Regions from separate parts of the Homo sapiens genome. Here regions 1, 3, 4, 5 and 6 are each reported to be linked to region 2. The links are microRNA targets in miRTarBase. Many come from high-throughput screens and were not tested one by one. Region 2 holds a microRNA gene; each other region holds the end of a gene's coding sequence. Distances are from middle to middle.

Region 1 (5,000 bases), not on the chromosome of region 2:
ATCTCAGCTCACTGCAACCTCCGCCTCCTGGGTTCAAGTGATTGTCCTGCCACAGCCTCCCGAGTAGCTGGGACTATAGGCACCCACCACCACACTGGCTAATTTTTGTATTTTTAGTAGAGATGGGGTTTCGCTACATTGGCCAGGCTGGCTTGAACTCCTTACCTCAGGTGATCCTCCCACTTCGGCTTCCCAAAGTACTGGGATTACAATAGGCGTGAGCCACCGTGTCTGGCCTAAATTTTGTTTTTAATTAGGGAAAGGAAAGGGCAAAGGGTTTGAGTTGCTGTCTGAACTGTGAGAAAAATGGCTGTAATATTTTTCTACCTTTTCAACTTTTTAAAACTAATCTTTCTCATTATCCTCAGATCATAGGTATATTGAACTGTTCCTGAATTCATGTCCAAAAGGAAAATAAGACTCTAGGGGCTCCAGATAATAAGGTAAATTTAAGAGGTAATACTGTGGGCTGGGTGCAGTGGCTCACACCTGTAATCCCAGTACTTTGGGAGGCCAAGGTGGGCGGACCACCTGAGGTCAGGAGTTCAAGCCAGCCTGGCCAACATGGTGAAACCCTGTCTCTACTAAAAATACAAAAATTAACCGAGCATGATGGTGGGTGCCTGTAATTCCAGCTACTCAGGAGGCTGAAGCGGGAGAATCACTTGAACCCGGGAGGCAGCGGTTGCAGTGAGCTGAGATTGTGCCACTGCACTCCAGCCTGGGCAACAGAGCGAGACTCAAAAAAAAAAAAAAAAAAGAGAGAGATACAACTGTGGAAATTATTTGCTATTGATAAACTAATAATCATTCACTCACTAATTTGTAATATGGTAGAAACCATTCTCTTTTTATTTTTCAAATTTTTTTAGGGACTAGGTCTTGCTCTGTTGCCCAGGCTAGCAGTGGTGCGATCATAGCTCACTGCAGCTTCAACCTTCTGGGCTCAGGTGATTCTCTCACTTCAGCCTCCCAAGTAGCTGGGACTACAGGTGTGTACTACCATGCCTACCTAATTTTTTAATTTTTTGTAGAGATGGGGTCTCACTATGTTGCCCAGGCTGGCCTTGAACTTCTGGCCTTAAGTGATCCTGCTGCCTTTGCCTCCCAAAGTGTTGGAATTACAAGAGTGAGCCACCCCGCCTGGCACCATTCCTTTTTAATAAAGATCAAACTAATGATAATTGAAGTGTCAATATAAGGAATGAAAATTCTCGCTCTGGCTTCTCAGATGTGGGGGGCAAAAAAAAAAAAAGAAAATTCTGCTGGGAAATAGAATTAATTATGATATTTTTTCATTTTTTTTAAATTTTATTTTATTTATTTATTTATTTTTTGTGAGATGGAGTTTCACTCTTGTTGCCCAGGCTGGAGTGCAATGGCTCGATCTCCACTCACTGCAACTTCCACCTCCCGGGTTCAAGAGATTCTCCTGCCTCAGCCTCCCAAGTAGCTGGGATTACAGGCATGCACCACCACGCCCAGCTAATTTTTGTATTTTTAGTAGAGACGGGGTTTCTCCATGTTGGTCATGGCTGGTCTTGAACTCCTGACCTCAGGTGATCCGCCTGCCTCGGCCTCCCAAAGTGCTGGGATTACAGGCGTGAGCCACTGTGTCCGGCCTACTTTTTATTTTTTTTGAGACAGAGTCTTGCTTTGTTGAGCAGACTAGATTGCAGTGATGCAGTCTGGGCTCACTGCAAACTCCGCCTCCTGGGTTCAAGTGATTCTCCTGCCTCAGTCTCCCGAGTAGCTGGGACTGCAGGTGCCCGCCACAATGCCTGGCTAATTTTTTTGTATTTTTAGTAGAGATGAGGTTTCACCATGTTGGCCAGGCTCATCTTGAACTAACTCCTGGCCTCAAGTGATTTACCTGCCTTGGCTTCCCAAAGTGCTGGGATTACAGGAGTGAGCCACTGCTCCCAGCCATAATTCCTTATGATTTATATGGTAGCTTTGAGCATTATCTCCATATAGAATTTTTATGCATAATTTCCAACATCATGCTGTTTGCCAAAAAATAGCCACCTTTAGTAGCTATAAATCGTAATAGACTGGATATGTGACTTGCATTAGCTTTTTTTCCCCACTTAAATTTAAACACGTTTTCCATTTTCTCAGGTTACTTTTGTTTTTTTTTTTTTTTTTTTTTTGATATGAAATCTCACTCTTTTTGCCCAGGGTGAAGTGCAGTGGCACAATCTCAGCTCACTGCAACCCCTGCCTCCCGGGTTCAAGTGATTCTTCTGCCTCAGCCTCCCAAGTAGCTAGGATTACAGGCATTCTCTACCACATCCAGCTAATTTTTGTATATTTAGTAGAGACGGGGTTTCACCATGTTGGCCAGGCTGGTCTCAAACTCCCGACATCCAGTGATCCGCTAGCCTCAGCCTCCCAAAGTGCTGGGATTACAGGTGTGAGCCACCACGCCCAGCCATTTTCTGTTTTAAGGTATTTTTAAAAGGATACCATGTGAAACCAGAGTGTATCATCCATAAACACAGTTAATGTGCCACTGTTTCCTTTTCCTAAAATGGCATTTTTTTTTTGCCTTAGGAAGTACATAATTTTATAGTGTTAACCTACCCGTGAGATTTGCTTAATACATCTTGATGTTCCTTGCCTCGATTAAATATATGGTGTCTTTTTTTTTTCCCATAAGGTATTGTAAGTATTACTGTTGTATTGCAGTCACTTTTCTACAGGTAATGGCTCATTCTTTTGAGACACTTACCTGTAATGATTTCTTGAAAACACATGGGGCCAGGCATGGTGGGTTACTCCAGTAATCCCATTACTTCAGGAGGCTGAGGCAGGCAGATCACCTGAGGTCAGGAGTTTGAGACCAGCCTGGCCAAAATGGCGAAACCCTGTCTCTCCTAAAAATACAAAAATTAGCTGGGTGTGGTGGTGCATGTCTGTAGTTCCAGCTACTGGGAAGGCTGAGGCAGGAGAATCACATGAATCTGGGAGGCGGAGGTTGCAGTGACTGAGATGGTGCCACTGCACTCCACCAGCCTGGATGACAGAACGAAACTCTGTCTCAAAAAAAAAAAAAAAAAAGGAACAAAAAAACACGGACATTCATTCTATTACTATATCCTATTCTATTGCTTTTTTTTTTTTTTTGGGAGACGGAGTCTCTCTCTGTCGCCCAGGCTGGAGTGCAGTGGTGTGATCTCCGCTTACTGCAACCTCCGCCCCCCGGGTTCAAGCGATTCTCCTGCCTCAGTCTATGAAGTAGCTGGGGCTACAGGCGTATGCCACCATGCCCGGCTAAGTTTTGTATTTTATTTTTATTTATTTATTTTTTGAGACGGAGTTTCTCTCGTTGCCCAGGTTGGAGTGCAATGGCACAGTCTCAGCTCACTGCAACCTCTGCCTCCTGGGTTCAAGTGATTCTCCTGCCTCAGCCTCCCCAGTAGCTGGGATTACAGGCATGCGCCACCACACCCGGCTAATTTTTTATTTTTGTGGAGACGGGGTTTCTTTATGTTGGCCGGGTTGGTCTCGAACTCCTGACCTCAGCTGATCTGCCCGCCTCAACCTCCCAAAGTGCTGGGATTACAGGCGTGAGCCACCGTGCCTGGCCTCTTCTGTTGCTATTTTTGGATATGAAGTCCCACAATTCTTTGGTGTTAAATATTTATAATAGCTAAAATCTATTTAAAATATATTCTGAAACTCAGTTTTTTGTACCAGCCTGTAAACACTAATGCCTGACTAGTTTTCCTCACTTTAACTCGGTTTATCAGATAGCTTGCACTAAATTAGAAAGGAGAAAAATTTGAATTTGCAATTTTAAATGGTATGGGAATGTGTGCCATCCTTTTTCATCTTGAGTAAATGTACAATATTTTTTGTTTTATTTTTAGGGTGAAGCAAGAAGCATTTCATTTGCACATCTTTCTTGGACTTGGGATATACAGTTCCAGTTTATTAGCAGCAACTGCTAGGGAAATGATTTTGGTGTTTTGGGTTAATTGCTTCTAAGAAAAGTTTCATAGTGGACTGTTTAGAAGAAGAAATGAAAGATCCAGTTTGGGATTATGAAATAAACCACAAATTAAAATTTTTGTTTAAACTGTCCAGGATCTGATTTAAAAATATGGTCTTTGTTTTATATGATTAAATGGTTTGTTTTCATAGATGATATGTTACTCATTGTAAAGACCACATATTTTTATTCAGCAGTGTTCTTTAAACGGTTTCATTTAAAAAGTAACTTTTTTTTTTTGCCTGTGAATTGAGTGCTCTGATGTAAAACTTCTCATGGAGTGAAACAGTGATTTATTTTAACCAAACATTCACCAAAGCAAAGAACGGTTTCAGACCTTTGAACTGGTATGGTTTGGCAGAATAGTTTTAAATTTTGCTGTATTTGATTACTTAGAGATAGGAATTTTTAAAAATCAAAACAAAAAATACCACAGCTTAGTGTAAATGACAATTTGGCGGTTTTATGTCTTTAGAAATGTTTTGCCTTTCTAAGCCTTGTGCTAAAGGCGTATAACGGTGGTGCCTATCTACTTAAGGGGGCATTCTAGTCTTAACTTAAAAGTTGTCTAAACTGTCCCTCCCTGGCTTTTTTTGGTTTGGGGTAGACCTAAGGGTGTTTGTTAGTCTCAAAACTGTGAAGTGACATGTCAGAACAGTCCAGACTGGTAAGAAAATTAATGGCTTCACTTGAATTTAAACCAGCTCTAGATAGGAAAAAAATCAGTCTCCTCATTTGCTTTTTAAATGGAGTAGTACATCCCATATTTTAGAACAAGTAGGGGTGCCTTGCTTAAATAAAAATAGCATTTAATGTATAATTGTGTGAAGGGTTTATGGATAAAGCTGTACTTCTGTCACAATGTGGCAGTACTTTCTGCTTTAATATTAAACAGCTTGTTATTTAAATATTGGACAAAATGGCTGGCTTCAAAATATAGTCATTAATAAACTAACTTTATGTGCACCTGTGTAGGAGAATCAAAATCCTGTATGCTTTCTTT
Region 2 (5,110 bases):
CTGGGATTACAGCCATAAGCCACCGTGCCTGGCCCCTTTTTATGCACTGTTTTGTGTTTTGTCTTTTGGAGACAGGATCTTGCTCTGCTGCCCAGCGTGGAGTGCAGTGGTGGTATCACAGCTCACTGCAGCCTCAAACACCTGGGCTCATGCAATCCTCCCACCCCAGCCTCCGGAGTGGCTGGGACTAAGGGCATGCGCCACCATGCATGGCTAAATTTTATTTTTAGTATAGACGAGGTCTCATGTTGGCCAGGCTGCTGCCAAACCCCTGACCTCAAGTGATCCACCTGCCTTGGCCTCCCAAAGTGCTGGGATCACAGGCGTGAGCCACCATGCCCGGCGAATGCACTATTATTTCTTATGGTTTTCTAAACCCGATTTGAACTTCTGCATTTTACATTCCCTTAGAATTCAGAGTTTTAGAAAAGACTTGTTTTCATCACTTTGGCTCATTTGGGACAATTTCAAGTCTGTGTTTTTATCAGTCTCTGGAAATTTATGAAAGCTGCAAATCGTCTCCAGTAGCTCTTTTATTCCCTTTAAACTTCTGCCATCTAGTTCCATGTTATAAAAAATATAACGTGTTTGGGCAGTGTTTAGGCCACAGCCACCCATGTGTAGCCACCCCTACACATGGGTGGCTGTGGCCTAAACACTGCCCACGAGAAAAGTTCTGAAGTGGGCCCTTCTGGCCCCACAGCCTGTCCGCAGGGGCTGTGGCCTCTAGGTCGGGCCTGGGGCTAGGAAGAGGGAAAGGTCAGTGCACGAGGCCACCCAGCTCCATGTCCATGCCCATGGCCCTTCTGCAGGGCATCCTCAGACTTGTTTTCAAGCCCATGTGTTAGAGATTTAGGAATGTGTCATTTTTCTCCTGTGACACCCTAAAAGAGGGTTGGGGAGAGCGTATAGGACTGAGGGCACAGCCCGCATGAGGCACACACGTGTGAGGCCAGCGTACACAGGACACGCACAGGAGATACCATCCTTCCCGGTAGCACGCTGCCAGCACCAGCAGGGGTCTTTAAGTAAGGACTGGCACAAGTAGAATGCCTTCTTAGGAAAATGATCCGCAGCTCAGGAGGCTGCTGCGTGGGGACCGGGAGGGGCAGGTGCATTCAGGGCGTCTGTGGCAGGGGCCCAGGGCTGCACCCAAGCCTGGAGCTTAGATGACCCCAGGAGCAGCAGGAAGGGCCCATCTGGCATCCCAGGGAAATCCTCAAGGCCTCTGGAAACTCAGTGCTGGAGCTGGGTCACCAGGGGTGCCCTAAGGAGCCTGGGACTGAAGCCTCAGGACCCTGCCCTGGCCGATTTTTGTCTGAGCTGTGGCAGTTCCCAGCCCACGGGAGGGCAGGGGAAAAGAGCCTTGGGCCCAGGGATAGGAGTGACCGGCCTATCCACGCTCCACCCTAGACCACGGAGGGGGGCCACACATTCTCTACGGACACTGTCCCCAAACAACTGTGGCATCTGACAGAGCCAACTCCTGCCCTGCTCCCAGTTCACCTTAGACCTGGGAAACGAGGTTTTGACTTCACTGCTCTGCATGGCCTGGTGCAGGGCTCCCGTGAGCAGACGGCCCATGGGCCACGAGCCAGGTATGTGGAAGAGCCTGTGCCTTCTGTCCTCCAGGCCGGCCCAGTCCAACGGCGTGGCTCAACTGAAACCACACCCAGAACTCGGAGAGGGGAAGACCTCGCGGTGGGGCGGGCCCAGGCCAAGCCCCTCCACTGCCATCACAGGTTTACAGCGGAGCAGAGGGGCAGGCCGGATACAGGCAGCCCAGGCCACAGGTCAGGGGACCCACACCAGGCCACAGGAACAGGCTTGCTGAGGGTATCAGAAAACCCCAGGTCACAGTGGTTTGAAAAAGAAGTTTATTTCTCAGCCATGTAGGCAGGAGGAGGCAGTCCAGCACTCGGTCACCTGAGGTCTCAGGGAGGCAGGCTCCATCTGCTGCCCCGTCATCCTGGTTCACGCCTCCCTCCTCATGGTCACCTCTGTGTTCAAGGAAGTGCTTGGCCGGGCATGGTGGCTCACGCCTGTAATCCCAGCACTTTGGGAGGCCGAGGCAGGCGGATCATGAAGTCGAAAAATCAAGACCATCCTGGCTAACACGGTGAAACCCCGTCTCTACTAAAAATACAAAAAAATTAGCCGGGTGTGGTGGCGGGCACCTGTAGTCCCAGCTACTCAGGAGGCTGAGGCAAGAGAATGGCGTGAACCGGGGAGGCGGAGCTTGCAGTGAGCCGAGATCACGCCATTGCACTCCATCTGGACTACAGTGAGACTCCATCTAAAAAAAAAAAAAAAAAGGAAGTGCTCAAGTTCAGGCCGGGGTAGGGTGTGTGCAGTGGCCTCCGTCAAGTGTGTGTCACCCCCAGGCAGCTCCCTGCTGCGCCTGGACCCAACTGTGCCCTTGGCTCACTCCATCTTGCTGGGTTTCCCATCTCTGTCTTACTGGCTGCTTTCAGAGACCAGGCCCAGAGTCCCCAGGACTCAGGTGACCTTGGCTACCCTGGAATCCTGGACTAAAGATCTGCAATAGAAATGTGTCCAGCAGGGAATGTAATGTGTCCAGCAGGGAACCATCCTGTTTGCTTTGCTTTTCTGAGTTCCTACAACCAACCGGCCAGGGCGCACTGTGGGGCACAGGGATGCAGGCCCTGGAGTATGGCCACTTCTGCCTGGGGGCGTCTGGGGGGTTTCCTGAGTGAGGTGGGGTCTCACCAGCTCCAGGAGACACCACTGCCATGCACAAGGTAGGTGTGGGGGTGGAGGATCACCTCCGTGAGGACCCAGACCCCACCCACTGTGGCTGTGGTGGAGACTGCAGGTCTGTCTCAAGGCCCCAGGCCTGACACCTGCAAGAACAGAACCTGGGGGTGACGGAGAGGGGATTCCACCAGGCCAGCCCGGGGCTTGAACCCCAGCCAGGGCAGCTGCTGTCTGCTGCCCCACCAGGTAACGCACCGACCCAGCTGCTGTTCAGCTCCCCCTCTGGGCCAGCACCATGCTCATGGCATAGGCCGGCTGGGCCCTCTGAGACCCCCACTCCCACACAGACTGGTCTGCATGGAGGCTGGTGCAGCCTGTGCCGTACAGACCCTGCCCGGCTGCACTACTGGCCAGAGCCCCCTGCAGACAGGCGGCTCGAGGGGAGCTCCACCATGCAGGAGATGGCCCAGCACTGCAGTCACTTAGGCTGCTCATCCCTCCCCGAACTGACATGTCCCTCCCTCCAGATGCCCCCCACCGCCGAACCCCAGCATGCTGGGCATGCTCTGGCCATCCCACACAGGGATCAGGGTGGGAGGGCTGGAGGCTGCCTGTCAGGGGCAAGGCCTCCTCCAGGAGGTAGGACGGGGTGGTGCAGGTGGGGTCCCCTCACCTGATGGGCCCTCGAGGCCAGGCTGTAGGCAGGCAGGAGGGGGCTGAAGCAGTGGGGTCAGGCCCGGGGAGCGGGGGCCCTGCCTTCCTTCCTCAACACACGGGGCTGCCCAGGCCCCGCTCCTGGGGCCGGGCCCACACCTCACAGACACTGGTGTTGGATGCTTCGGCTTGAAGGAGCTCCAAATGGACTAGCCGCAGCTGCCCCTGGGTCCACCTGGCCCAGGCAATACCACAGAATCACCAAGGCTCATCTAGCCATGGGCCCAAACCCAAGGCCCTAAGAGGCACCCCGGGTGCCTCAGTCACAGTCCCAGGCAGCTCAGGTCCCAGGCGGCTCACAGTCACCATCCTTGACTTCATGGTAGCAGAAATGGAGTGCTTTGAGCTTGTGATGAGCACAGGCTCCCAACCCTGGGAGAGTTCAGACATGCCCACTGGAGAGGCCCCAGGCCCTGATGATACCCACTCCTCAGACATGCAAACCTGGAGCCAGGGAGGCCCCAATGAACTGCATACTCTCCCAACAGACCAAGCTCACCCCACACCAGCGCAAGGCCCTTTCAGACCCAGCCTGGCCACCCCCATGGACCTGGCCAGCACCTCCCCCAGCCCCACCCTCTCCAGACAGGCACCAGGCTGTGGTGACCCGCCTCTCAGCAGCTCCTCCTCTGATGCCTCCCCACGGTCCAGTCGTTACCCCCTCGTCCACCTGACTGGGCTGCGCATGGCCTCAGTGCAGAGCCAGGTTTTAGTAGTGGGTAAAAGGGCTCCCTTGCTGTGCTTTACCAGAGAATGCAACACCCCCAAAGCTCCTTCATGACCCACTGTGACCTGCAGCACCACCAAGCCCATCCTCATCCCTGTGTCCCAGGCCACCAGCCTCTGAGGGCAGGCACTGCAGGAGCCACCGGGCCACAGAGGATGGAGGCAGGGAGGACATTCTGCCTTCATGAGGGCATGCTCTCAAAGACAGAGCCGCCCCAAACTGTCAGCAGGTGACCCTCCGCTCTGGGAAGGCAAGGGGAGGAGCTCAGGGCCGTGGCCAGAGCCCACGAGAAGCCCGTGCCCAGCTCAGCAGGTGACCCTCCGCTCTGGGAAGGTAAGGGGAGGAGCTCAGGGCCGTGGCCAGAGCCCACGAGAAGCCCATGCCCAGCACTGCAGGGCTCTGGCCACTGCCTAATGCCCTCCATGAAGCCCTGCCTGCCCTTCCAGCAAACCAGGGCCCCTGAGGCTCCAGAAACCCCAGCTCCACTGCCCTCAGCCTCCATGGCCTTAGCAGCCTGGCTCTGGGGCTGAGCTCCTGGAAGGGCAGGGTGGGGGTAGGCTCCTGAGTTTTATTTTCTCACATTTCTTCCAGACATGCTTCTGCTGATCCTCAAAATGGCAAAAGCCAGGATGCTCAATTCTCAAAGCTCAACAGCTGATGGCACATTTGATAACAAAAATCAGTAATATTTAGAAACAAATTTGATTAAATTCGTAAGTGCCTGAATAAATCATACTTGTAGATTTAATATAAAATGTGTGAAAGCTTATTCGCAGGCCAAATGACATTACTGCAGAGCATTAAAAACCAGCAGGGGGAGGGCTGTCGGCCCAGCTGGTGCTGCGTCACGCCCACCCATGTCATGTGGGGTCACCAGGCTGCCCCTGCCCACCAGGTGTCAGTGGGGCCCTGGGCATGGGCTCTAGGTTTGGGGCCTTTTAGCACCTCTGA
Region 3 (5,110 bases), not on the chromosome of region 2:
CAACTCGGCCTCCCAAAGTGCTGGGATTACAGGCATGAGCCACCATGCCCAGCCAAATTATGTGTTTTATTTATAAAATAATTTAAGCAAGTGTTTCACCTGGTTGTTCCATTAGTAAATGAAAGATTTTATTTCACTGAGTCTGGGACTTCCCAAATAGCTTAATATTATATTAGTCTTGATGGTTCTTTATTAGAACCAGAATGGTTCAAGAAAGCCTGAAGGCAGGTTCTTTTTTTTTTTTTTTTTTTTTTTTTTGTGAGACAGTCTCTGTTGCCCAGGCTGGAGTGCAGTGGGGCAATCTTGGCTCACTGCAGCCTCCACCTCCCAGGTTCACATGACTCTTAAGCCTCAACCTCTGGAGTAGCTGGAGTTACAGATGTGCACCACCACACCCAGCTAATGTTTGTTTTTTGTTTTTTTTGTTTTTTTTTAGTAGAGACAGGGTTTCGCCATATTGGCCAGGCTGGCCTGGAACTCCTGACCTTAAGTGTTTCGCCTGCCTTGGCCTCCCAAAGTGTTGGGATTTCAAGAGTGAGCCACTGTGCCCAGTCTGAAGGGGGGCTTCTCGGCTGTTGACTTATGCTGGAACTCAGTACAGAGACTATTTCATCTAATTAATATTCCTGTTTAAATTCTTTTAGACCAACCTTATACGGACAGTATGGGGTTGCATCGACATCTTAAATCAGTAATTGCTAAGCTCTAATCTGAATTTTTTTTGTTTTTACTTATAGCAAAAATATTTTGATTCTGGGGATTACAACATGGCTAAAGCAAAAATGAAGAACAAGCAACTTCCTACTGCAGCTCCGGATAAGACGGAGGTCACTGGTGACCACATTCCCACTCCGCAAGACCTTCCTCAACGGAAGCCGTCCCTTGTTGCTAGCAAGCTGGCTGGCTGATTAAGAGGCTGAACTGCATGAATCTGCTAAATCTCATTATTTCTCCTTAATATGTTACTTATCTACTTTTTATTTCCTTTCATTCACTAGTCATTTGAGACTGACAGCTTTGCAGGTAGCAGTAGTGTGTGCTGCTATTGTGGAATATACGTGTGTAGAGTTTTTGATTAGTTTAACAGTGCACTGGTGAAGAGGACATGTTAGAGCAACATAAGTAAACTACTTGAAAATAGTTGTATATATTACCTAACTTCTAGTGTAGTACTGGTTCTAACAAGTAACAAGCAAGTTTTAAAATTTTAATGTTTTGGCTTTCATTACTTCATCTTAATTATAGCTTTGTATGTTACTCTTATTTAATATAATCTCTATTGTATTGATTTCTTCTGTATTTACCTTTTGGATTTTGTAAAACAGAAGTTTAAGACCACAAGTTAGAAGAAAGGTCACATATTTCAAACACAACTAGATGGGGCTCTGAAAGATTTGTATCTCTGTGCTTGAACTTGAATGGCCTTAAACCTGTTTCAGCTTTAACAGTAGAATTTTACTTGGGCAATATTTGCCCATTCTGGTGTAACTTATGTGACTCTAGTGCTTAACAGCTGCCGTTGAAGCTAATATTCAGTTCTGTAGAGTTAGAATACCTTTTGTTGTTGAAGATGTGAATGAAGTATGCATGTGCATTAACTGTTGAATTCACTTTTGTGCCATTTTTGTAAATACAGTAGTTTTGCACAACCTCTCACAAATGTCTGTATTAATTTCACATACTTAAAAAGTAGATAATGTGCCAACCAGAAGCACAAGAGTTCCTACACAAAACTCTGTAAATCATTATAGCTTTTGTATAATAAGAGTAGTTTACAATCTCGGGCTTATAGAATACCAAACTGAAATCTTAGTTCAATCTGCCATAGACTTAAGCTTTTCATTTGTTACTAATATCCATGACATTCAGTGGCCTTGTGCAAATACGATATGTTGCTTAGGCATATCTTTTGTCCTATGCAGAACCTTTCATTTTGATTTTTATGAAAGTTGCAATTCATGTAATTTATATAAACTTTTTAAATGTAGAAACTTTTTACTTCCACACTCAGTTTTGGAGACCCTAGAATAAAAGGCTTCAATACTCTGCATTCCATGCCCTCTGCCACCTGCTTTTTTTTCCCCTTTGTTCTTTGACTCAAATGGTATTGAGCTGTTTGTTGTATATGGAAGCATAGGTGTCTATATCCTTACTCTTTTATATAACACAATAATGGCGTTTTCCTTCTAATTTCTCAGTTGTTAACTTCTTTCTCTTTTTTTTTTAGGATAGGGCCTTGCTCTGTCACCTGAGCTCTAGTGCAGTAGTGCAATCACAGCTCACTGCAACCTTACTCCTAGGCTCAAGTTAACTATTCTTGATCCTTTATTATTACTAATATTCTACAATTGTTTAAATAAAAGGAACTTTATAATGAAACGGTTCGGAATACTGGCTCAAGAACCTATGTCAAGATGAGCTGAATTTTGGTAAATTATTTTAGGAATTATGACAAGCTAATTGAATTAGGCTTGTGACAATTAGAGTAATTTACATGACAGGTAAAACTCCTATTAAAAATGTTTAGATGTTTGCTTCTGTAGATGTCACTTTAGTAAAATACCAATTTAGTTTTACTTGTGGCTTATCTAGTTAGAACTTAGCAGACTTTACTGGGACAAGTTTACTGCTCTTGTAGGAGCTCCTCTCACAAGTAGTTGTAATGCTGTAGCATGATACTCAGGATCAGTAGCTTGAGATGCTACTATTTTTCTCTTCATCTTTGACTTGCAGAGAGCCTCCCGTTTTTGGATCCAGGCATCTTTTCTGAATCCTGGTTCCATCAGTATACCTGCTCTCCTATGACCCCAAATCATAGTCAATGGTGCCTCAAACATAGCACCTTAAGTTAAAGGCTGCCTAGTGCTCTGAGGAAAGCTTGCTGATTATCTTCCTGATCTACTCACCCCAAAAGGCAGAAAAGCAACACAGTCACTGCTGTGGTCATTTGTAATGTAAAGATCAGTTATATATATATATTTGTAATGAGAGCAAGTATATACTCATTATAGAATCAATTTAAGAAGTTTAAAATAACCCAGAGTAGAATTTCTATATCTAGTCTTGGTTTTTTTCATGAATATTTGCAAGTAATTACCATTAAATTCACACATGAAAGATTAATCTGAAAGATCAGAGACCATGTTATTCCTGACCACGATAGAACTGCTCCTGTGGTTTGGGACAAGTAATAAAACAACTGCTTGAGTTTTGTTTGTAAAATACATAATTAATATTTGACCTACCTCAAAATGTATTGAGGATCTGTGAAATGCTAAGTGCCCAAAATAAAATATTGCTGATTGTCTTTTTATTAAAAGTAAATTTCCTCATTAAGCCAACCTGCCTTCTGTAAGTCACAGTGCTTAAATCTCAGGATTTTTCATTAGGAGAGACCTGTCGTTAAGGATTTGTAGGTATAATTGCTTAGCCTCCATTATTGGTGCTTGGGATAGAGAGGTTTTAGATTTTTGTTTTTTTTTTGTTCTGCCTCAAAGCTCAGTTTATTGAAGACATTTGTAAGCTATTGGATCATCACTTGAATCAAGATTTTGACTAGTGAGCTTAATTGTCCATTTCTTACAATTTCAAAGTTACAGTCTCAGAAATGGTTAATTTTAATAACTGTCCTATCATAAATTAATGTTGGAATAAATTGAAGTTGTTGATAAATACTTCATGAAAACTAAAGTCTGAAATAAATTACTTGTTTTATGTCCAATAGCTACTACATTTGATAGAACAGTTTTGAGGAACATTTCATTCTTGAACGCAGCATCTGACATGGTTCTCAGCAAGTTGGAATAGTAAGGATTATTGGCTTGTTTCGATGAGTGGAAGCGGCATGTTTGTAGCATACAAGTTATTCAATAATCTTGTGCTGATGACCTAAAAATATGTCTTAACTATTCATCAAGGAAAGCCTGGTGAAGCCTTTACTTGTTACTACTTCAACAGTTGGAATTAGTTGCTCTTTTTACTTGATGAAACAAAACTATACCTCTGAATATTTATGGATACTTTTTACTAAATCAGGCTTGTGTTCTTAATCCAAATTAGTAAAGTTTTATGGAAGCTGAAATGTAATACAGTAGTCTCCCCTTATCTGTAAGAGATACATTCCAAGACCCCTAGTGGATGCCTGAAACCTCAGATAGTACTGAACCCTTTATCAACTATGTTTTTTCAGTCTGACAACCAAGGCGGCTACTAAGTGACTAAGGGGCAGGTAGTATACAGTGTGGATAAGCAGGACAAAGGGGTGATTCACATCCCAGGCAGGACAGAGCAGGAGATCATGAGATTTCATCACTCAGGATGGCTTGTGATTTATTTTATTTTATTCTTTTTTTTTTTTGAGATGGAGTCTCACTCTTGCCCAGGCTGGAGTGCAGTGGTGCGATCTTGGCTCACTGCAACCTCTGCCTCCTGGGTTCAAGCAGTTCTCCTGCCTCAGCCTCCCAAGTAGCTGGGATTACAGGCGTCCGCCACCATGCCCAGCCAATTTTTGTACTTTTAGTAGAGATGGGGTTTCACCATGTTGGCCAGGCTGGTCTCGAACTCCTGACCTCAGGTGATCCACTCGCCTCGGCCTCCCAAAGTGCTGGGATTATAGGCATGTGCCACCATGCCCGGCCGGCTTATGATTTAAAACATGAATTGTTTATTTCTGGAATTTTCCACATAATATTTTTGGACCAAGGTTGCCTCAGGTAACAAACTACAGAAAGTGAAATTGCAGATAAAGGGGATTACTGCTCCTCTGCTCTAAAATTGGTGTTTGGGTGATCAGAAGCAGGTAGCCAATGGGAAGAGCACTTCTGAGTGATAACTAAAGCAGTTTGGTGGCCTTTTCACATTCTCCAATGTTCAAACATATTTTCCACTTTCCATTTTCTCTTTCACCTCATTTTGCCTCTCTATCCCCCATCCCTGCTTATTTCTTAAGCCCATTGATGGCACTCATTAAATTGTATTTAGGGCTAATGAGTCATTGTTCCTTAATATCGTTTTCAATATGCCACAATTTAGGACACATTTAAAATTTTCTAAAACAATATCCTAATCAATATTGACTAATTTGAGCCACATTCCCAACTCTAACTCAGCA
Region 4 (5,097 bases), 55 Mb from region 2:
GATTTTGGAGTCTCCTGTGATCACATCTTGTCTCGGCTGTAGGAATCAACAGAAGGAGACGTCCTCTACATAAAAGCTCCATGTGAAAAGCTACTCCTAGTCTTAACATTTGCAGTCCTTGTGTCACTGTCTTCTGGTCCTGATGTAGTCCCACTGTTTCTAGAAGTCTCTTTTAAGCATTATTTTTGAAAAAAAAAATATTTTTATAGATGAATACTCAGGCTAACCTAGTGGATGTGATCTTGGAACTTCCATGATTATCCACTTAAAGATCAAAGTATTATATGCTGTGTGCTTTTTAGGTGTTTGTTAGTACTGTGAAGGCAAAAATGCTTTCTACATTGACATTCATTCCTATTTTACTGGGCACCTATGAATGTATGCTGTGTGCTAGAAATAGACTAAAACATATTCCTATAGCATGTTAGTGTGTTTGCATGTTTGCTGAAAATCCTTTGTGTATAAACCAGTTTGTAAGGTTCTCTGGGTTAGGTAGGGACTCTGCAGTTTCTTCCTGTCAAAATCTCTCCTACCAAGATGGTGTTCCACTGTCCAGCCCAGCATGAGTAGCAGGTAGAGCACAGCTTTACTGGCTGTTTGTATGCTTTGGTTTAGTGCAATGTGTGGTAGATTACTTATCAGAAAACATATATGTCATCTCTAGAACGAAGAAAAAGCATAGTAGTTCAATTCCCAGTGTGTCCCTTTGATTTTTTTTTTTTAATAGTAAAAATAAGAATCTGTACTGACTTTTCACTTGGCCATTCTGGTTTTAAAGGACAAGCTACAAGCTCTGTGTTTCTGTACTGATGTGTCACTTATTAAATACTTTTGTACCATGAGTAAAACTTCAGGTGTTTCGCAAGAACCACCATTCTCAATGAGTTGTATTCTTTCTTTAATGTAGCCACTGCCATAAGGTTATTAATTATTGCTTTGGTCTTTTTTTTTTTTTTTTAAATGCCACCTCTCCTGGGCTTGCTTTCCCTTGCTTTGTCTATAAATGGGAGGTCCACCACAGCCCAGGCATGCTGGGAGCACTTGCTAAGACCTGTGGACCAGCCTGCCTACTTGAGAAAAGGCCAGTGGACAAGTCCAGAGATTAAATGATGAAAAAACGATGATAAAGGCAAATTGGTTTTTCACCCTTTTTTTTTTCTTTTTTTTTTGGGAATGGAGTTTTGCTTTTGTTGCCCAGGCTGGAGTGCAATGGCACGATCTCGGCACACTGCAACCTCCACCTCCCGAGTTCCAGTGATTCTGCTGCCTCAGCCTCCCAAGCAGCCGGGATTATAGGTGTCCACAAACACGCCCAGCTAATTTTTGTATTTTTAGTAGAGACAGGGTTTCACCATGTTGGTCAGGCTGGTCTTGAACTCCTGACTTCAGGTGATCACCCACCTCCCAAAGTGCTGGGATCACAGGTGTGAGCCACCATGCCTGGCTGGTTTTTTCACCCTTTCTGCTCAGCAAAAAGGAGGCAAGTCTGTTGTCACTTAATATTATAAGTAGACATTCTGATTTCTTTTAAAATAAACTAGCAGCCTGTCTCTCCATCCTCAGACACTTAGACTGTGATGTCAGGTGCCACCTTTGATGGGGCTCCCACCTGCCCTGGGGTGAGGAAGCCCCAGTCCTCTTGCTTAGGACTCCTCCCCAGTGGGAAGCAGTAGTCACACAAACTGCTGAGCCTTAGCATTGACTGAATGCCTTTAATGTCCCCCCTGAAACAGGCTTTTGATTCATGTTGGAAACATAAGAGGGGTGAGCTCTCTAACTTGCCTGGGATTTTGTTTTACATTTAAGTGTATTGCCCTTCCTTAAAACCAAACTCTTATAACTTACTCCTGGAAGGACTAATTTATTATTCAAACTCCGAGACTTTAGAGTAAAAAGTGATGCTATTAATATTTATACCAGGGCCAAGTGTGGTGGTTCATGCCGATAATCTCAGCGCTTTGGGAGGCTGAGATGGGAGGATCACTTGAAGCTGGGAGTTTAAGACCAGCCTAAGCAATATAGCGAGACCCAATGTCTACAAAAAATTTAAAAATCAGCCGGGCACAGTGGCTCACGCTGGTAATCCCAGCACTTTGGGAGGCCGAGACGGGCGGATCACGAGGTCAGGAGATCGAGACCATCCTGGCTAACACGGTGAAACCCCGTCTCTACTAAAAATACAAAACATTAGCCAGGCATGGTGGCACGCACCTGTAGTCCGTTACTCGGGAGGCTGAGGCAGGAGAATCGCTTGAATCTGGGAGGCAGAGGTTGCAGTGAGCCGAGATCACGCCACTGCAGTCCAGCCTGGGTGACAAAGTGAGACTCCATCTCAAAAAAAAAAAAAAACAAAAATTAGCTGGGCATGGTGGCCTGCACTTGTAGTCCAAGCTACTGAGGAAGCTGAGGTGGGAGGATTGCTTGAGCCTGGGCAGTCAAGGCTGCAGTGAGCTGTAGTTGTGGCACTGTACTCCAACCTGGGCAAGAGAGCAAGACCCTGTCTCTTAAAAAAAAAAAAAATCGGCCAGGTGTGGTGGCTCACACCTGTAATCCCAGCACTTTGGGAGGCTAAGGCAGGCGGATCATGAAGTCAGGAGATCAAGACCATCCTGGCTAACATGGTGAAACCCCATCTCTACTAAAAATACAAAAAATCAGCTGGGCGTGGTGGCGCTCACCTGTAGTCTCAGCTACTCAGGAGGCTGAGGCAGGAGAATTGCTTGAACCCAGAAGGCGGAGATTGCAGTGAGCCAAGATTGCGCCATTGCACTCCAGCCTGGGCACTAGAGCAAGACTCGGTCTCCAAAAAATAAAAATAAAAAATAACAAAAGGGTACAGAGGGTACCTAGAAATGCTTTTACCTTATTGTTCAGAGAACGTTGTTCTGTGGTGTTGGAAAAATAAGCTCAGGAGTACTCAGCTGCTTTCCTCTGCTGTCTCTACCAGCTCTGAGCAGGCAGCATGGCCAGCCACCTTGATTATATGACCTCCAAGCTTCACAGACTTTCAAGGTAGATGATATTGTTGAAATCTTTGATTCAGTAAGCTCACCTAACCTGCCCAAAGCAAGGGTGACTAAGTTATTGTCAAACTGAGTCACTTGTGAGAATAAAAGGCCGTGCTATTCTATTTATGCCAGCACAAACAGCATAAACCAGGACTGTTCCAGACCCAGCAAGCAGGAAGTATAGGCAGCCTTCCTCCGGTCAAAGAGTTCGCAGGTGGTGCTGAACGACTCCAGAACGTGAACTGCCCTACAGCAGGCATCTTCTACAGTCAAGCTGAGGTCTCCTGGAGGTTACAAGCACCTGTAAAAGTGATTTGCCAACATCTTGTCCAAATAATTTCTCTCATCTTTATTTTTATTAAAAAAAATAAAACAGTCACCACCAACCACATGACAACTCGCCAGGCAAGGCCTTGCTTCCCTCCCTCCTTTGCGTCCCATGTGCCTAGTCAGCAAGGTCGGGGAGGCACCGATGTTAGCTTCGCCCAAAGGGAGTATTACAGAGAGAGGCTTGGGAAAGGGAAGGAAACCTGGACAGGCTTTTCAGCACTGAGAAATCACTTAAAACTGATTTGCTTTCAGTAACTGGTATGTCTGAAATGCAGGGAGGGAAGACCATGCTGTCAGCAATCAACCCACTTTTTACAGGTTGGCTCCAGGGAGAGGTTGGTTGAAACGGTGTTTAAAGGAAGGAGAGTGGTTTCACCAGCTTGCTCAGCTCTCCTGGAACAAAGACTAAGGTGCTACGTGTTGCTTGTTAGGCTTATACTACGGCGGGTCTGGGGCTGCAGGTCTGGAGTCCTTGTTAGTGCATTTAGTGCTGGTGAGAAGGGTGGGCCCCAGTCTTGGACGCTGAAGTCCTCTAAAGACAAGGCAGAGACACAGCCTCAGATCCCCCGTCATCTTCCACTGAATAAGGGGGATGGAGAAGAGGTCTCAGCAGTTGGCCTCCTGCAAGCCGAGATGCCTGCCAGCCTGGGCCTGCTTCCTTAGCGCTGTGAGAGCTTATGTCTGACGGGCAGAGAGGAGCAAATGCAGTCCCTGTTGGGCTGACTCCACGCAGGGCTCCCCAGCTTCAGGCTTGCAGGGTGACCCTGCTCTGTGACCCAGCGGCGGCTTCAGCCCCAGAGGGGGCCGTGGCACAGGTGGTTTAGGCATAGCCGCCAGCCATCTGACTGGTGGCCGCATTGCTGCCTACTCCTCGCCAGGCCTGGTAGCTGAAGAAGGCACTCACTCCATAGGCGATCATCACCAAACACGCAAAGAACTGAAAGAGAGGTGAGAAGGGCTTAAGGACCGAGAGGGTGACAGTGACACAAGCTCCAACCAGATCTCAGGCCAGGCAGGAGGGGTTGTGGCAGCCGCACCATCTCACACTTAGCCAGATGCATTTCACAGCTGTTTATCATGGGGCTGATGAGCACCAGGGTCCTGGGATACCAACATTACCTTCTAACCATGGGAAACAGCTAAGAACCACAGGCAGGGCCTGTCAGATTGTGATAAGGGCAATGAAGGAGAAGATAAGAGTGACAGAGGGGACACCTAGCAAGGATTTAGTTCTAAAAAGACAACATTCAAAGGACACCCTAGGAATCTCCTAGAACCAGTTCAAGCCTCTATACTAACACCTGCAGCCACATTCAGAAGCTCCCCGTCTCTGTCCCCATCACTGAATTTGCTGATTTCAAAACTGCCCTCATCAGGAAGAGTAAGGAACCAAATGCGTGCCCATTGAGGCCCTGCCCTCCCCTGGGCTTGGCCGTGGCTCCAGGCCTGGCGTCCAACTTCTCTGAGCAGGAGCCTCCTGTCTGTCAAAAGGAACTGGTAGTCCCTTCCTCTCCCTCACTGTGGGTGTCGCAGGATCCTGGGAGGAGATGGTGTGCAGGGCCTGGTGGTGTGAAGGGTGACAGGCGTGGAGGGGACTACTGCCACTTCACTGGCCACCTGACGTGGGCCCAGAGTTTGGGTTTCATGGGAGAGCCTATGAATCTCCCAGAATGGTTTAAACCAAAAGGTTTTTGCACGTGCACTTGTCAGTGGGAGAGCATGTTTTTCACATTCTCCAAGGGGGCACGTGACCCTAAGG
Region 5 (5,103 bases), not on the chromosome of region 2:
TCACTCTGTCACCTAGGTTGGAGTGCAGTAGAGCAATCTTGGTTCACTGCAACCTCTGCCTTCCAGGCTCAAGCGATCCTCCCCCCTCGGCCTCCTGAGTAGCTGGGACCACAGGTGCATGCCACCATGCCTGGCTAAATTTTCGTATTTTTGGTAGAGATGGGATTTTACCATGTTGCTCACGCTGGTCTTGAACTTCTGAGCTCAGGAGATCTACCAGCTTTGGCCTCCCAAAGTGCTAGGATTACAGGCATGAGCCACCACGCCCAGCCTGCCAACTAGTTTCCCCAGAGGATTCCTCCAATCTCCTGCTGGGGTTGGACGGAAGATGGTTGAAGGGATGAAAACTTGGTTTTCATTAGAAAAGAGTGCTGAGGGCCCCACAGTTCAATATGCAGCCTTACATTAGTCCCCATTTCAGCCATATTTTTACCCCAGTCTCTACTGTCTGGTGTCCCTGATTCTAGAACAACTCTGGAATCAAGGACACCAAAGTCAATCCACAAATCACTAACATGACATGAAATTTTTACTGGCACATAGTGAAGTGAGAAAAGTAAGGACAAATTTGGGAATTTGTCATAAAGCTGATATAATATACAGGGCTGCTCCTGGCCGGACATGGTGGCTCATGTCTGTAATCCCAGCACATTGGGAGACCGGTCCTTCACCAGAGAATAAACCTCTAGTCTCCTTTGGGATGAGGAAAGGGTAATGGGATGAAGAAAGGCATGAGGGAGGAATGTGTGCGTAACAGCCAGCTGTATGGGTAGGTGAGGGGGTCTAAGGATCTGACATTAGAATTTCAATGAATCCCCATTTTCAGCCCTCTTTCTTCCATAATGCCCACTGTCTCCAAGGCCTCTGTCTTCCCAGGAACATCCTTGTGCCAGTATACTTTTCTGCAGGCTCTGCTAAGTCAGTCACCACTCTTCTATTTTCTCACCACCAAAAACTTGACATCTCATGTCTGCTTCTATATTCTCCTCTATTGTCTTTTATACCCTCCAGTTTGCTTATGCACTCAGGTTCATGAAATAAAGATAAACTCATGTTGTTAATCAGCCACATTTAAATGCATTTTAAACAAATTAGGCTGGGCACAGTGGCTCATGCTTGTAATTCCAGCACTTTTGGAGGCTGAGGCAGGTGATTGCCTGAGCTCAGGAGTTTGAGACCAGCCTGGGAAACATGGCAAAACCCCGTCCTACAAAAAATACAAAAATTAGCCAGGTGTGGTGGTATGTGCCTGTAGTCTCAGCTACTCAGGGGGTTGAGGTGGGAGGATCGCTTGAGCCCAGAAAGTTGAGGCCGCAGTGAGCCATGATCATGACGCTGCACTCCAGCCTGAGCAACATAGTGAGACTTTGTCTCAACAAACAAACAAAAACAACCAAACCAAATTAACACAGAAATACCCTTTTATCTTAAAGTATATCAGCTATGATTCTCAAAGGTATACGATTCTCAAATATTGGTCCACTTGCACAGAAAAGAAAAAGGAAACAAAAAATATTTCCTCACATATAAAATGTAGGTAGGAAAGTATATGGATTACATTTCTTTACTTGCATCATGGATACATAGTTCAATTCAGTTCAAATCAAAACCATTCAATACATATTTACTGAGTCCCTTCTGCGTGTCAGGCACTGTTTTAGGCACTTGTGATATATCAGTGAAAAAAACAAAGGCCCCTGCCCACATGGAGCTTACATTATAGCCAGGGGAAACAACAGTAAACAATAAACACAAATATGTGAAGTATCTAGGGTGATAGGTGATATGAAAAACATAGAGCAGGTGAAAGGGGTATGGGATTTCTCGATCTGGAAGGTAGACAGCTGCAGTATTAAATAGTATGGACAGGATAGGCTTCAGTAAGAAGGCAACAATTGAGCAAAGATGAGAAGGTAAGGGTATAGGGCATCTGCAACAGCTAGTGAAACGGCCCAAAGGTTAGAACAAGGCTGGAGTTCGGGAGAGGTCTGGGCTGGAGATGTGAATCTGGCAGCTGTTAAACAGAGACGGTATTTTAAGCCAAAGACTGTATGAGATCACTGAGGCAGGAACTACAGAGAAAAGTCATAGTCATGTCTTTCAGGGAAATAAGCAATTGGAGAAATTCAAATTCTTGGGAAATCTAAGACCATAGAAACATGGTAGAACAATTTTAAGAAACAGTGTATACCTCACTCTTTTTCTGCCCATCAGTCATACAGGACTTAAGAGTTAGAGGCCAGCTTTTTTTTTAAGTAAATGTAGTAATATGAAAAATTCTAGAGATACTGGTATATATTCTGGATTTATAGCTTTACTTTAGATAATTCACACTTATAATACTCACGTGATTGAAACTGTTCTATCTCCATATAAAACAAAGAAGTTGAACTTGACTTACTTCCAATTATGTCTGTAAGGATGGAGTATCTATTTCATTAAGTACAGTGAAGCATTAGGAGCCAATTCCTCTGCTTTCTCTCCGTATTTCCCTGCCTGAGTATGGCTCCTTCAGTCACCTTTCTCTGGTCCTCTTTGGTGGGCCTCTTGATGTGTTGTTCTAGGGGCTATCTTAAGAGACACTTCCACTTGATACAAAGCATATTTCAAATCTAATGTTGTATGCTTGGCAAAGGAAAAGGTAAATAAAGTTATCTGAAAGGTTTCTCCCCAGAATGAAGTCTCAATATATCTCTCTTCAAAAAGGCATCATTATGTTTTAAGGAATTGTGGTTAATTTTTGTAGGTATAATAATGGCATTGTGGTTATGTTTTCAAAGAGTGCTCGTTTTTTAGAGATACATCTCAAAATATTTATGGATTAACCATAATAAAAAACCGATCATTATAGAGGGAAGTCTGCATAAATATCTCCAAAAATAATTCCTAGGCTCCAAGACAGCATTACAAATGTAGCGTTTAAAGAATTATTGCAACAAAAATACTAAAGGAATTGCTAAGGAAATAATTTATGGCATATACACACACTAATCTGATACTAAATGATAGTCTGTTGTCATTTCTAATCATTTTACATACTCTATGGGGGGAGGAGTGAAAAATGACAGCCCTTGAGCCAAACGAAACCTAACAGCTGTTTTTTAAATGCAGTTTATGGGAACCACTATTGCACACATTCATCAGTGGGTCTCAACCAGGGACAATTTTGGCCTCTAGGTACACCTGGCCATGTCTGGAGACATTTTTGACTGTCACAACTGGGGGAGGGGCAGCTATCAGCATTGAATGCTGGCATCTTGTGGGTAGAAGCCAAGGATTCCCCTAAACATCCCAGGATGCACTGGGCAGCTTCCTATAGCAAAGTATTATCCGGTCCAAAATATTGGTAGTGCCAAGGTTCAGATACTGTAGTTTATATATTGTCTCTGGCTGTTTTGTACTAAAATGGGGAAGTTGAATAGGTGTGACAGGGACCACATGGCCCACAACACCTAACGTATTTACTATCTGGCCCTTTACAGAAAGTTTGCCAATTCTTGCTCTATATAAAACCATAAAATATAAATAAGCATCTCGTGTACAGTAAGTTATCTATCAATGCTAGAAAACTCCCTTTAACATTTTTTCTTCTAGAAATGAGAAGCAACATTTTAATTTCTACCTCTTCTAGCCATATAAAGGGCTAGAGTAAAAGGCTGTACTATATTTTATTCTGATTTATTAAAGGGATACTTAAAAGAGTGTTTCTCAAAAGTTAATCCACAGATCACTAACACGCCATGAAATTTCACTGGCACATAGTGAACTGGGAAAAGTAAAGATAAATGTGGGAGTCTGTCATAAAGCTGACGTAATATAACAGGCTGTTCCTGGCCAGACACGGTGGCTCATGTCTGTAATCGCAGCATACTGGGAGACTGAGGTGGGAGAACTGCTTGGAGCCAGGAGTTTGAGACCAGTCCAGCAACATAGTGAGACTGTCTCTACAATAATAATAATGATAATAATAATAATAATAATAATAATAATAATAAATTAGCCAGACATGGTGGTGCACATCTGTAGGCCCAGCTACTTGGGAAGCTGAGGCAGGAAGACTGCTTGAGCCCAGGAGTTTGAGGCTGCAGTGAACTATGACATCACTGCACTCCAGCCTGGGCAAGAGTGAAACTGTTTTTTAAAAAAGGGTCTGGGTCGGGGGTGGGGGAGGGGCAGGCACGGTGGCTCACACCTGTAATCCCAGCACTTTGGGAGGCCGAGATGGGCGGATCACCTGAATGGTTCGAGACCAGCCTGGCCACCATGGTGAAACCCTGTCTCTACTAAAAATACAAAAATTAGCTGGGTGTGGTGGCAGGCACCTGTAATCCCAGTTACTCAGGAGGCTAAGGCAGGAGAATTGCTTGAGCCTGGGAGGTGGAGGTTGCTGTGAGCTGAGATCACGCCACTGCACTCCAGCTCAGGTGACAGAGCGACTCCATCTCAAAAAACAAAAAAAAAAAAAAATGGAGGGGGGAACTGTTCCTACATTTAAAAATATTAAAATGTCCTTTCTTTTCTGAAACAATGCTGATAATAGGTGTTGTGTTTTTAATATGGCAAAATTAAGAGTTGGGAACATTGTGCCAAACCATTTTTTTTTAATGTTCGTTTTTGGAAATCCAAAAACAAATGGATTTTTGAGGGATCAGGGAACCACTGATTTAGAATCTTGTGCTCCAACATAGATTCTTTGATGTTTAGTATATTTCACACAACATTGCTGAAGGTATTTCTTAAATGTGTTTTGCAGTGTCTAATAAGGGATGAACTACAGCTGAAGGCTTTTCCACACTCATTACAATCATAAGGTTTTTCTCCAGTATGAATTCTCTGATGTTTAGCAAAGGATGAATCATGCCTAAAGGCTTTCCCACAATGACTGCATTCATAAGGTTTTACTCCAGTATGGACTCTCTGATGGATAGAAAGATGTATTCTCTGGCTAAAGGCTTTCCCACATTCCTTACATTTATATGGTCTTTCTCCAGTATGAGTTCTCTGGTGTTGAGTTAGGTATGTACTATGGCTGAAGGTTTTACTACATACATTACAAATATAGGGTTTCACACCAGTATGAATAATCTCATGTTGCCTAAGGTG
Region 6 (5,000 bases), not on the chromosome of region 2:
TGTCTTCTGTAATAGGTTTCAATAAAGCTGGATGAACTTATCGTTGTTGCTGCCTGTTTCCTGGCCTATAAAGAGGGTTGTGTTCTGGAATTCCTGTACTCTGGATACACATGAATGAGTTCCAGGGGGATTCTATGAATAGTGTGGACAATTCGCGTGTCCATTTTGATTGACTGACAGTTGGAAATAACTATTGCTGCGTGTGAAGAGAGCGCACAGATTTTCTTGTGAAAGTGATCAAATAGGCACCAAGCAACCTCTACTGATGGAAGAATAGGTTAGTTTTCCAAAAAACATGCTCTGGATGATTGCAAGGGAAGGGAAATTGTGGGTGGATTAAGAACATCTTATGTTTCCTGGGCTAGAGAACACTAAATGTGAGTCTCTTTACTGCACCATTCTTTCCTATTTCTCATGGATAGCATCTGACCTGTTTCTCACTTTAATCGGAGAAAAGTGAAAATTCAAACGTACAGATGAAGGCATCACTATTAATACATGTTAGTGAAGTGTGAGAATTAAACATTCAGTTTCTCAGTCAAGCTAAGATGAAGATATAGAACATTTCCGTTGTAGAAAATTCGAGTGATGGTGCTGCTGCTCTGAGGGTGAGCTGGTTAGGGCCTGCACTGCTCACTGTTCTGAAATGACCTCTGTCGTGACTGGAATGTCACAAGAAAAAAATTACTCCTCGCCAAACAGTACATGTTACTCAAGACGAGAGAACACAAGTTTATAAAGGCATTTAGTTTATTTTTCAAAAAAATACTTTGCTAGAAGGGTTGAGTACTGTAATTTTACATGATCATAATCTCTAAATAAATTCTTTTTCTGACCAACAGGTACCAGTTAAGTGAACAGCTCGTCTAGGTCTGCTTTTGTAACACCCAAATACAATTAGCACTTCTCTGCTGGTATTCCCTGGGCCGTCTTAATTATCTAGAGGCCAGGAGGCAAAGCCTAGCACGTAACAAAGTATGTGCTTTGTAACTGCTGATTAATTCAGTTTCTTAACTAGGCAGAGCAGGTCATCAGTGTATCTAATTCACACTATTAATACACTGTCTTGCTGAAGAGTCTGACCTGCCCAGAACCCCGTTATGGCTAGCCCAGGGAAGCAGTAAACTGCAAAGCAGAGAAAAGGGGCAGCTAAGATGAGGCTAGTGCTGGCTGAGTCCCAGTTAGGTCTGTTACTGTTCTGTTCCAACTATAAATCCAGGATGACTGTTACTCAGATTCAGTGCTATGTAGAAAATAGAATGCACAGCCAAAAACATAATTTGGGGATGACTGGCAGCACCTTTTTTTCCCTTTCTTAAGAGGCTAACTGAAAGTTGATTAGGATTCTTGAGAGAACGTAACTAAAAGTTGAATCAAATCTATATTCACTGCTATAGATTTAATAAAAGGAAAGACCACTGTAAAGATGCAACTACAACCTGATGCGTCTGCTGAGGAGAGGACTGGGCAGCTTGTTGAAGGCTCGTCAAAAGTAGCGCTTAGTTATCACAAGGCCTGCACTCAACCTCAAAAGCGTAAGGTTTAGGCCAGGCACGGTAGCTCATGCCTGTAATCCCAGCACTTTGTGAGGCAGAGGCGGGTGGATCACCTGAGGTCAGGAGTTCCGAGACCAGCCTGACCAACATGGCAAAACCCTGTCTCTACTAAAAATACAAAAATTAGCTGGGAGTGGTGGCGCACACCTGTAGTCCCAGCTATTGGGGAAGCTGAGGCAGGAGAATCACTTGAACCTGGGAGGCAGGGGTTGCAGTGAGCCGAGATCACATCACTGCACTCCAGCCTGGGCAACAGAGCAAGACTCCGTCTCAAAAAAAAAAAGCATAAGGTCTGCCTACCTCATGGGCACCCAAACAGTTCAGTGCCAAACTAGTACCAGTAAAGCCATGCCTGCCTCTTTCACCAACAGTCCAGAGTATATTTCAAAAATATCTTTATTAACCAAGGAAGCAATTACTGCAAACATCAGGACAAAGGACATTCTAATCTAGGACTTGAGTTAAATAGAGGTTTACACCTAATCACAAGAAGAGAGGGAAAGCAATTACGTGTGCTGAAACCAAGTTTCATCAATGACAAATATTTTAAAATGACTTTTAAAATACTTAACATTGGCCAGGCACGGTGGCTCCCGCCTGTAATCCCAGCACTTTGGGAGGCCCAGGCGGGCAGATCACTTGAGGTCAGGAGTTCAAGACCAGCCTGGCCAACATGGTGAAATCCTGTCTCTACTAAAAGTACAAAAATCGGTGGGGCGTGGTGGCACACACCTGTAATCCCAGCTACTTGGGAGGCTGAGGCAGGAGAATCGCTTGAACCTGGGAGGTGGAGGTTGCAGTGAGGCAAGATTGCGCCATTGCACTCCAGCCTGAGGGACAGTGAGACTCTGACTCAAAAAAAAAAAAAAACAAAAAACCCAAACTCAACATTTAGTCTAAGCCACACTGGGCAGCACACCTCAAGGTGCCCTATGAAGCATGAGACTGGAAGTGGAAGAGTCACTGGATTTGGGCAGCTCTCTCTCGGCGTTGATTTTCTTACAGGAACAATTCTGTCTCTTCTGCATGCCAGGTTCTGTCACTGAGGAACTGAAACACTTCCTCACTCTGAAGTACAAGACATTTTGAACTGACAGCCCAGTGACTGGCTACTTTGGTATACCACACCCCCACAAAAAAAAAAAAAAAAAAAAAAAAAAAATCAGAGGCAAATTTCTGGCATGTTTTGAAAAATCTCATGTTTGCATAATTATGTTTGAAAAACTCATTATGAGATCTTCCTTACCCTAAACTGTCATTTTTTCCTAACGCTGACAGAACCCCACCTATAGCAGCATAAAGTGCCTCTACTCTCAGTCTTTTTAACGACTTGAAACACAGTAAGAAACACTGACCTGGTTTGACATTAAGGATTTTGGGTCTGGAGGACTCAGGAGAGGAAAGTGCTGGGGCTGCTTCCCAGTGTCACCACTGGTGTTGGGAACCCTGCATGTAAACATGGTCGGACTCAATCCTCAACTGCTGGCAGTCAGCCTTCTCAACCATACCTCAGGGCCAAGTGAAACTAAACATTTTAGCTTTTTCAACACTCCAAACCTACGCGGGCATAAACTCGAGAATCTTCTGCCATTTACTTTGTTTTTCTATTCAGACTTCTGAGTTTCTCATACATACATTGGTTGGTTTTCCTCCCAATTCAGAAAGGGTAACTGGGTAGGTTTCACATGTATCTTTCCAACATGTCACGAAAGGCTGGATTAAAGATGTGAGACGCGTGATATTCATCCTAATGCAGCTAAGTGTATGGACAAGGGCCACTTGGCCTTTCTTCAGAAGATGAGGTTCAACAGAAGGAGAAGAACAGCTGTGCTAGTGTCAGCACTGGCCATGCAGAAGCCAGACGTACCCTGCATGTTACTGAGGTCACTAATGGGACAGGAGAAAGAACCTGACACGGTTGCTGCGCTCCCATGGGACTAAGTTGTCTCTATTACCTTCCCTCTTCTCTCCAGCCACCTGCAAAACATCTCAAGTCAGTCAGCCTTCAGTTTTGAATGTTTACGTTTCAGATACCCTTGAAATAGAAATGCATTTGGTAAACCTTAACTTCTTCCAATTGGGAGGCAACACAGGGAAATGACAACTTAAAAATTACTCTGAGAACAGCTGCATTCTCATTTGTTTGACCACTAGTTTGATGGATGTTAAGATTTTTTTAACAGGTCGAAAACAGAAAAATTCAGGGAATTCAATATCCCAGCAAAAGCCTTTATGAGATGTATGCCACGTATTATAATTCCTAAAACCACGATTGAAATCTGTCATTGTTACTGGCCTCCAAGGTTGCTTTTTCTCACACCTTACTCCTCCCAAAGCAGCCACTGTGCTTACAAGTGTGCCTCCAGAAACAGAAGACACCAGTCAGTTTACGACCACTTCCATCTCACCCTTCAAAAGGAATGGACTGCACTCTCTAAGACTCACTTGGAGAGGGAAGTTGGTGAAAGTTGCCGCTGGTAAAGTAAAACAGGACTGGATTTGTCAAAACCACCCCCAGCTACCCTTAATGCCCCAGGGAACACTTACTATTCTCAGAGTTATGTTGTATCAAAAACATCTTGCATTTTTAGGTTCTGGGAGTAAATTTGAAACCTGTATTCAGTTCACGTCTAACTAAGTTTCAAAAGCTGCACCAAATCTACTAAGCTTTTTTTTTTAATACTCTTCACTGCATGCTCTGTCTATATGCATGCGTTTGAATAATAAATATTAAATATGGGGGACGCACAGAACCATAAAATTAAAAATGAAACCAAACTGAACATTAAACAATAGTACATGGTAGCTGGAGAAATGAATAAGGGCAAAAAATAAATTTGAGGTAACAATAGTGGCCCAACACCACTGATCTGAAATATCTGTAAAAATTCAACTAAGTGTTTGGAGATTCAAGTAACAAACCATCTGCTCCAACTTGGTCAGACTTCCCAGAGTCCCTGCTGAGTTTCAGTCCATGAGCCGGCACTCACATAGCTCCTTGTAAATCCTCTTCCGCACTCGGGGCATGTCTTCTTGTGAAAACTGGAAAGGCTGCTCTAAGGCGAGGCACTTGCAGTACTGCAAAAAAAAAGGTCCCAGAAACACTTCAGTGGCACTTGGAGTTGTGGACCAGCCCATTCTGTTTTACTAAATGCAGACCTAATAGTGTCTAAGGCAGAAGACCCCAACCTTTTTGGCACCAGGGACTGGTTACGTGTAAGGCAATTTTTCCACAGACTTGGGGGAGAGGGGGTTGGTTTCAGGATGAATTATCAGGCATTAGTTAGATTCTCATAAGGGGTGAGCAACCTAGATCCCTCGCATCTGCAGTTCACAACAGGGTTCACACTCCTAAGAGAACCTAATGTGGACAGTATCTGTCCGTGGCCCAGGGGTTTGGGACCCCGATCTAAGGCAGCATTTTCATGTCTGTTTAAACTACTG

Evidence for each region. Region 2 holds the annotated microRNA hsa-miR-940 (AAGGCAGGGCCCCCGCUCCCC, at 3,457-3,477, opposite strand). A microRNA usually pairs through its seed, bases 2 to 8, with sites in the 3' UTR of a target mRNA and lowers its output. Matches are read on the target gene's strand: a 7mer-m8 pairs with bases 2 to 8, a 7mer-A1 pairs with bases 2 to 7 and ends in A, and an 8mer does both.
Region 1: miRTarBase lists GRSF1 as a target of hsa-miR-940. The part of its 3' UTR that is shown has no 7-base or 8-base seed match.
Region 3: miRTarBase lists ARPP19 as a target of hsa-miR-940. Seed matches in the 3' UTR shown: 7mer-A1 at 2,856-2,862, 7mer-m8 at 3,342-3,348 and 7mer-m8 at 4,447-4,453.
Region 4: miRTarBase lists PLLP as a target of hsa-miR-940. The part of its 3' UTR that is shown has no 7-base or 8-base seed match.
Region 5: miRTarBase lists ZFP69B as a target of hsa-miR-940. The part of its 3' UTR that is shown has no 7-base or 8-base seed match.
Region 6: the mRNA of SENP5 is a reported target of hsa-miR-940. Seed matches in the 3' UTR shown: 7mer-m8 at 2,316-2,322, 7mer-m8 at 1,757-1,763, 7mer-m8 at 1,731-1,737 and 7mer-A1 at 1,016-1,022.

The regions. Positions count from the first base shown.
Region 1 is chr4:70,819,737-70,824,736 of GRCh38, reverse strand. It overlaps GRSF1 (G-rich RNA sequence binding factor 1), which reads left to right. Exons shown (of 10, transcript NM_002092.4): 9 at 369-443; 10 at 3,876-5,000. The coding sequence ends at 418. Among named protein-coding and RNA genes, the nearest start is that of GRSF1, 18 kb to the left of the region's middle.
Region 2 is chr16:2,270,173-2,275,282 of GRCh38, reverse strand. MIR940 (microRNA 940) reads right to left here and starts at 3,536; the gene lies at 3,443-3,536. MIR3677HG (MIR3677 and MIR940 host gene) reads right to left here. Exons shown (of 3, transcript NR_132988.1): 2 at 3,392-3,607; 3 at 2,211-2,296. MIR3677 (microRNA 3677) reads right to left here and starts at 4,570; the gene lies at 4,511-4,570. It overlaps MIR4717 (microRNA 4717), which reads right to left and starts at 663; the gene lies at 592-663.
Region 3 is chr15:52,547,732-52,552,841 of GRCh38, reverse strand. It overlaps ARPP19 (cAMP regulated phosphoprotein 19), which reads left to right. Exons shown (of 3, transcript NM_006628.6): 3 at 738-5,110. The coding sequence ends at 908. Among named protein-coding and RNA genes, the nearest start is that of ARPP19, 19 kb to the left of the region's middle.
Region 4 is chr16:57,252,755-57,257,851 of GRCh38, forward strand. PLLP (plasmolipin) reads right to left here. Exons shown (of 4, transcript NM_015993.3): 4 at 3,343-4,275. The coding sequence ends at 4,159. It overlaps ARL2BP (ARF like GTPase 2 binding protein), which reads left to right. Exons shown (of 6, transcript NM_012106.4): 6 at 1-881. Among named protein-coding and RNA genes, the nearest start is that of ARL2BP, 10 kb to the left of the region's middle.
Region 5 is chr1:40,463,197-40,468,299 of GRCh38, reverse strand. ZFP69B (ZFP69 zinc finger protein B) reads right to left here. Exons shown (of 5, transcript NM_023070.3): 5 at 4,585-5,103. The coding sequence ends at 4,711. Among named protein-coding and RNA genes, the nearest start is that of ZFP69, 12 kb to the left of the region's middle.
Region 6 is chr3:196,930,447-196,935,446 of GRCh38, reverse strand. SENP5 (SUMO specific peptidase 5) reads right to left here. Exons shown (of 10, transcript NM_152699.5): 10 at 733-4,634. The coding sequence ends at 4,524. NCBP2 (nuclear cap binding protein subunit 2) reads left to right here. Exons shown (of 4, transcript NM_007362.5): 4 at 1-41. Among named protein-coding and RNA genes, the nearest start is that of NCBP2-AS1, 6.9 kb to the left of the region's middle.